Homo sapiens: one gene and its partner. The protein of the gene in region 1 interacts with the protein of each later gene in a pairwise test. Each region holds a gene or a part of one and is shown on either strand. Other genes may lie near its edges. The genes, in order: IPO11 and PLCD4.

Region 1 (3,822 bases):
CTAGAACGCAGTGGCATCATCATGGCACACGGCAGCCTCAACCTCCTGGGCTCAAACAATCCTCCTGCCTCAGATTCCTGAAGAGTTGGGACTACAGGTATGCGCCACCACTCTGGTCTAATTTTTTTTTCCTTTTTTTACTTTTTGCAGAGACAGGGTCTCACTATGTTTACCAGGCCGGTCTTGAATTTCTGGCCTCAAGCGATCCTCCCACCTTGGCTTCCCAAAGTGCTAGGATTAAAGTGTGAGCCACCATGCCCAGCAAATGTCTGGAATCTTTAATAGAGTGTCATTCTCTACTAAGAGCTTTAGAAAGATTAAGCTTTCCCCTATCAATTTTTCTTGCAATTAATACTTACCCTCAAACTATATTTCCAAGAATCTCCTCCTGTTTCTTCCACTGCTGCAATTAAAAATATGTAATAATGACATTTTCAACATCTTGGTTTAGAAAACAAAGATTTTAATAACATCAGTATAATATTTTTGTGAACTCTTTTAAACATAACATTAAGAGCAAAGCCTTGGGAACACAGGCCTTACACAGATTTTGTTACTATATGCTACAGATCACAGTTGTGTATCTCACAGTCGTCTATTAAGTGCTTACTATATCCATAAGCATTCTCATTTTCGATAAAAATTCTTTATGGAAAAAAGCTCAAAGTAGTTGTCATTTCCAGGGTATCTGCTATCACCTGATCCAATATCACTAGAATTCTGAGAATCATTTCATTTCAATACAGTAATCATGTTTCACTAGGTACAATGATTACTCACACTCTCCATAAATTTCTTGAATTTAAAGAAAAATACTTCAGGGCTCTTAAAAATTTAGGGACTCAACACTTTATGTTACAATGTTGTATGTACTATATAAAGAAAGCAAATTGAAAAAAGATGTTTCAAAAAAAGCAAAAAAAAAAACAAGAAAAGACATGTTGTACAGTACAATCCTGTATTAAAACTAAAATTACTTTTAAAAACCAAAAGCATGGCGAAGATAAGTATTACAAAAACTTTTGGGCACTCTTAAAATATTAGGAAACGTGTAACTACACAAGGGTACACAACCAAAGAGAAAAGGGAGGCTAAAATCTAGCCTATGTCCCACCATAGCTTAAGTAATTCACATACAAGTAAGTACTTTATTAGACACATGATTCCTTGATTTTCTATAGCAAGGGTCCCAACAGACTTATTCTACTTATCTATCTAGTACTAAAATTCAAACAGATATAAAGATGTCCTGTCCAAAAAAAAAAAAAAAACTATTCATCAAAAACCTCCAAATTTCTTTGCAAGAATTTCTACAAATAAAAAATAACATGGAATGAATCACAAAATAGAAACTGACAGGGTAAGAGAGAGTTAATTTTATATTTTTGTTTGAAACTACATGATATATTTGTAAAGGAATCCAAAAACTAAAAAGGTCTTTTCCTGGACAAAATTCTACAACATATTTGCATAAGTCATTCATTTTCTGCTTCTCAATTTGTTCTAATGGATAACAACGAAAGAGTAAGTTAATTTTAAAACACCAAGATTTCCAGATCAAAAGTGCTGTATGAAAATACAATATTATACCTATCACTCAAACAGATATTTATAGAAAGGGGAGAAAAGTCATTCTAACACTAAAAAATTAATTCTTACTAAAGCCTTCTGGGTCTTCTTCCCACATTGTCAGTTCTTCTTCAGTTAATAGGAAATAATGAGAGACTAATCTTCTACATATCTCTGTCAAAGTAGGATATGTGAAGAATGCCATCTTAATCTTATGGGCTTCAAGAGTTTCAGGGCTGCTATCTAGAAAAATGAAATTTCCAAGTTAATTGTATAGCCAAACATTGTAGCTACATTGGATTATGTAACTTAAATAAATAAAAAATACACTCTCAGGGAAGAAGATACACTTGTGTATAAATTTTCATTTTTATTATAAACAAATCTCAAAGATACTCTTTCCTTACAACACACTCACATCAATCTTGCCTCTGGCATTACAGCTTATATATTACCATGCAATACCATCACGGCATACTGAAATAACTTCCTCATAATGTAGAGGGTGTGGGGGGTGTGTGCATGTGTTTCTCTCTCCCCCACCACCAAGACTTCTTCATTCATCTTGGCACACACGCATATGAATGAATTCCAAATAATACAACAATTTAACCTGTCTAGAAACAATCACACTTTATATAAAGTCAGAGAAAGCTTTTATTTGTTCAAATGAATACACCCTACAATATGAGCTGCAGTGATGACTATAGTACCTAATTCTTAAAGTCCCTAAGCTTCAACCAATTTGTGCTACAAAAAATGGCTTATTAAATGCACTATGTTGTTTTTAAAAGCTAGTATAAACATACTAAAGCCTATAATCCTTATATCTTTTTCATGTCCCAGCAACAATTTATTTTTCAGACTAAAATGACATTTTTTAAAAAGTTTGTAATTATAGCAATTATATCACACTTAAGATTAAAATAATTCTTTTAAACTGCCAATAAAGGAATTACCTTCAAAATTTTTGGATGGCTTATAAGCATAATTTTTGACAATCATCTTAATAAGATTCATACATTGGACAATGAATCGTTCAAATGTAACGCCTTCACCAACTTCTGTAAAAACATAGCTTACAGAAAATTCCAGTGATCTCTGAATTAGAGGAGTAAATGAAAAAGGATGCTGATCCAAGAAGTCCAAAAGCTGTAGAAAAATAAATAAATAAAAATTAAAATGTATTTTCCCCAAATTCATATTGGAATATAATCACTCCAATTATAACTTTACTAATAATCATTTAGCAGTTTGAACCTTAGTGTGGAGTCTATGTTCACTCAGTTTTACATTATCATAACTCTTCTTGAGGCACATCATATAATGAGGATTATGTTAGATTATATCTGATAATAAGAACTTTCTATTATTTTCAATACAGAAACCAAAACAGACTCAATTCATACTTAATTTTATAACAATGGGTGAATATGATACAAAACGCTTAAATATACAATAGACCTTTAAAAGTAATAGACTAAGGTAAAGAATTTAAATATTATCTTCCCTTTCCCATATGAATTATATTTTAATGTTATCAAATAGCTAAGGAGGGAGATGTCTTCTTTATAGAAGAATTTCAGCTAATAAATGCAAAAGGAATAACAGAATTAGAATGCCATCATTGTGTAACTCCTGATCAAATAATGGATCTAGGCAAATGATGATCAACAGCTGTTAAAATAAGAGAAAAGCTGCTGAGGAAATTTGATAGATCACTCATCAATCTTAGCCACAGAAAAAGAAACCAATGAGAACAAAGACACAATGTACCAGAGTCTCTGGGACACATTTAAAGCAGTGTGTAGAGGGAAATTTATAGCACTAAATGTCCACAAGAGAAAGCAGGAAAGATCTAAAATCAACACCCTTACATTACAATTAAAAGAACTAGAGAAGGAAGAGCAAACACATTCCAAAGCTAGCAGAAGGCAAGAAGTAACTAAGATCAGAGCAGAACTGAAGGAGACAGAGACACAAAAAAACCCTTCAAAAAATCAATGAATCCAGGAGCTGGTTTTTTGAAAAGATCAACAAAAGTGACAGACCACTAGCAAGACTAATAAAGAAGAAAAGAGAAGAATCAAACAGACACAATAAAAAATGATAAGGAGTATCACCACCAATCCCACAGAAATACAAACCAACATCAGAGAACACTGTAAACACTTCTAAGCATATAAACTAGAAAATCTACAAGAAATGGATAAATTCCTGGACACATACACCCTCCCAAGACTAAACCAGTTA
Region 2 (3,822 bases), on another chromosome or scaffold:
TGTTTGTTTGTTTGTTTGTTTGTTTTTTGACATGGAGTCTCGCTCTGTTGCCCAGGCTGGAGTGCAGTGGCGCGATCTCGGCTCACTGCAAGCTCCACCTCCCAGGTTCACGCCATTCTCCTGCCTCAGCCTCCTGAGTAGCTGGGACTACAGGTGCCCACCACCATGCCCGGCTAATTTTCTGTATTTTTTTAGTAGGGATGGGGTTTCACTGTGTTAGCCAGATGGTCTCAATCTCCTGACCTCGTGATCCACCCGCCTAGGCCTCCCAAAGTGCTGGGATTACAGGCGTGAGCCACCACGCCTGGCCCCCATTCCAGGTTTGAGGGCTTCCTCTTTCCAGATGTCTACGAGGGAACCAGAGAAATTCTTTCACCCTCTTACCTCAGCTGGGGGCGGTATGGATTGTGAGCAATTTGTCTGTAAAACAGACTCTCTTAGATGTGTCCTGTGATCAAATTATGTCTTGTTATCATAAAGAGTTTGGCCAATAAGTGCACACTGTTATGATTTTTTTTTTGTTTTATTTTGTTTTTTGAGACCAAGTTTTGCTCTTGTCACCCAGGCTGGAGTGCAATGGCACAATCTCAGCTCACTGTAACCTCTGCCTTCCAGGTTCAAGCGATTCTCCTGCCTCAGCCTTCCGAGTAGCTGGGACTACAGGTGCGCGCCACCAAGCCCGGCTAATTTTTGTATTTCTAGTAGAGATGGGGTTTCACCATGTTGGCCAGGCTGGTCTCAAACTCCTGATCTCAAGTGATCTGCCTGCCTCGGCCTCCCAAAGTGCTGGGATTACAGGCATGATCCACCACACCCAGCCGCATTTTTTGTATTTAAAAATATTTATTATAGGCCGGGTGCAGTGGCTCACGCCTGTAATCCCAGCACTTTGGGAGGCCGAGGCAGGCGGATCACGGGGTCAGGAGATGGAGACCATCCTGGCCAACACAGTGAAACCCCGCCTCTACTAAAAATGCGAAAAATTAGCCGGGCGTGGTGGCGGGTGCCTGTAGTCCCAGCCACTCAGAAGGCTGAGGCAAGAGAATGGCGTGAACCCGGAAGGCGGAGCTTGCAGTGAGCTGAGATCACGCCACTGCACTCCAGCCTGGGCAACAGAGCGAGACTCCATCTCTCTCTCTCTCTCTCTCTCTCTCTCTCTCTCTCTCTCTCTCTCTCTCTCTCTCTCTATATATATATATATATATATATATATATAAAATAATGGCTAACATTCATTAAATGCATTCTGGTTTTACATCCCATGCTAAGTGTTTTACATGTTAACTCATTGAGTCCTTGTAGCCTACTAAGCAGGTACTGTTTAATCCCTGTTTTACAGATGAGGAAACTGAAGCTTGATGTATGTATGTATGTATGTATGTATGTATATATGTATTTTTGTAGAGACAGGGTCTCACTCACCCAGGCGGAGTGCAGTGGTGTGATCACAGCTCACTGCAGTCTCAACTTCCTGGACTCAAGTGATCCTCCCATCTTAGCCTCCCAAATAGCTGAGACCACAGGCGTACAGCACCACACCCAGCTAATTTTTTATTTTTATTTTTTATAGAGACAGGATCTCCCTATGTTGTCCAGGCTGGTCTTGAACTTCTGGTCTCAAGAAATTCTCCTGCCTCAACCTCCCAAATTGCTGGGATTACAGGCATTGAGCCACCATGCCCAGCCATAGCTTAACTACTTGATTTTCCACAGCTACTCAGTTAGAAAGTGGCAGAGCCAGGGCTTTAATTCAGGCAGGCTGATGCCCAAGATCATGGTCTTATTATAATAACAACAAGATGTAACCAATGATTTATTACATCTTACTATGTTCCAGGACTCTTCTAAGCCTTTTATATACAATAACTAATTTAATCCTCATAACAGCCTTATGAGGCAAGTACTGTTATGATCTCCTTTTACAGGCTCAGATATAGCCACAATTAGGACAGCACAAACACACACTATCGTAGGACTTTGGTCCCTCCCCTGCCGGGCTCCTCAGGCCTCTATCCACCCATGTATCCACCCCCCACTATCCAGGTCACTCACAGCTGGGCTTGGCACTGCCCCTGGCCTGCCGTGCATGCCAGACTGTCATGCCGTCATTCTGAAGTCTGAAGTATCTTAGCTTCTTCCAGCTTTTGGACCTCACCTTGCGCATCGGCATGCCTTCCTGCATCAGCAGCAAGTCCTGATCAGTGGTCAGCTCTAGGTCAGGAAAAGCAGGGGTTAGGTAGCCAGCAGAGAGGGTAGCAGGCCCAGGGAGAGCTCTGGAACAGGGGTCCAACCTCCTTCCCTTCCCTGAGCTGTACACTAAGGCCTCTTCCCCTGCAGGGGCCCCGGCACTCACGGTCTTGCAGCAGGGACGCCATCACCCACTGTTCCACCAGCTGGCACCAGATCACCTAAAGGAGCAAGGAAGAGCAAAGGGCTCTGGGTGAATCTTGAAGATAGTCTGTAGCTGATTTTTGCTTCTAATTTTGAGTTTAGTGACTCTGACACTTTAGATAGGTTTAGAAACCTGCCTCAAATCACATAAGGATCAGAATTTAAACCAAGATATGTCTGATCCCAGAGCCTCTGCTATTTCCCATGGCTATCTTCAGAGAAGGGTAAACCAAAGATTCCGCCCAGCACCCCCTTCCTACCCAATAACCCACAGTCTACTAGTGCCACATTTTGCTCACTCCCCACCCTCTCATTATTAGGAACTAACATCTTGCTGGATGTCCCTTTCAGAAACTAGAATCTCTTCACACCCTAGCCTTCTCATTTCCAGGTGGAATCCTTTCAGCTTCCCTATTCTGGGAGTCCTCTCTATCTATGCTCCCACATAGACTGTCCAGCTCCTGAGGGGCTAGTGCAGACTTTCTTTTTCTTTTTCTTTTTTTTGATACGGAGTGTCGCTCTGTCACCCAGGCTGGAGTGCAGTGGTGCAATCTCAGCTCACTGCAACTCCCAGTTCAAGCGATTCTCCTGCCTCGGCCTCCCGAGTAGCTGGGACTACAGGCATGTGCCACCACACCCGGCTAATTTTTTGTATTTTTAGTACAGACAGGTTTTCACTGTGTTAGCCAGGATGGTCTCAATCTCCTGACCTCGTGATCCGCCCACCTCGGCCTCCCAAAGTGCTGGGATTACAGGCGTGAGCCACTGCACCCGGCCAGACTTTCTTTTTTCTCTTTAACAATACTTAGTTGTCTTCTTCTACCTTCACATGGTAAAGCATATTTTATACCTTTCCTTTATAGTTATTCTCACAGTTTTAATGGACCAAATAAGTTACACAAGTCTCAGAACTACATTTTCAAATTTTCTCTACCTACCAAAAAAGGGTACCTCTTTTAAGATATAGGCTGTTGGCTGGGTGCGGTGGCTCACGCCTGTAATCCCAGCAATTTGGGAGGCCGAGGCTGGCGGATCACCAGAGGTCAGGAGTTTGAGACCTGCCTGGCCAACATGGCAAAACCCCGTCTCACTAGTAATACAAAAAAATTAGCTGGGCATGGTGGCAAGCACCTGTAATCCCAGCTACTTGGGAGGCTGAGGCAGGAGAATCGCTTGAACCTGGGTGGCAGAGGTTGGCAGTGAGCCAAGATTGTGCCATGCACTCCAGCCTGGGCGACACAGCGAGACTCTGTCTCAATAAAAAGAGGAAAAAGGCTGGGCACGGTGGCTCACACCTGTAATCCCAGCACTTTGGGAGGCCGAGGTGGGTGGATCACGAGGTCAGGAGATTGAGACCATCCTGGCTAACACAGTGAAACCCTGTCTCTACTAAAAAAATACAAAAGGCTGGGCGCGGTGGCTCAAGCCTGT

The links.
Region 2: the proteins of IPO11 (region 1) and PLCD4 interact in a two-hybrid assay, tested with the Homo sapiens proteins (one large-scale study listed by BioGRID and IntAct).

What each region holds. Positions count from the first base shown.
Region 1 is NC_000005.10:62,482,000-62,485,821, reverse strand, and holds part of IPO11 (importin-11), read right to left. Parts: intron 2,722-3,822; coding exon 2,529-2,721; intron 1,813-2,528; coding exon 1,660-1,812; intron 404-1,659; coding exon 360-403; intron 1-359. UniProt on the Homo sapiens protein: Functions in nuclear protein import as nuclear transport receptor. Serves as receptor for nuclear localization signals (NLS) in cargo substrates.
Region 2 is NC_000002.12:218,614,293-218,618,114, reverse strand, and holds part of PLCD4 (1-phosphatidylinositol 4,5-bisphosphate phosphodiesterase delta-4), read right to left. Parts: intron 2,409-3,822; 5' UTR 2,376-2,408; coding exon 2,354-2,375; intron 2,212-2,353; coding exon 2,053-2,211; intron 1-2,052. UniProt on the Homo sapiens protein: Hydrolyzes the phosphatidylinositol 4,5-bisphosphate (PIP2) to generate 2 second messenger molecules diacylglycerol (DAG) and inositol 1,4,5-trisphosphate (IP3).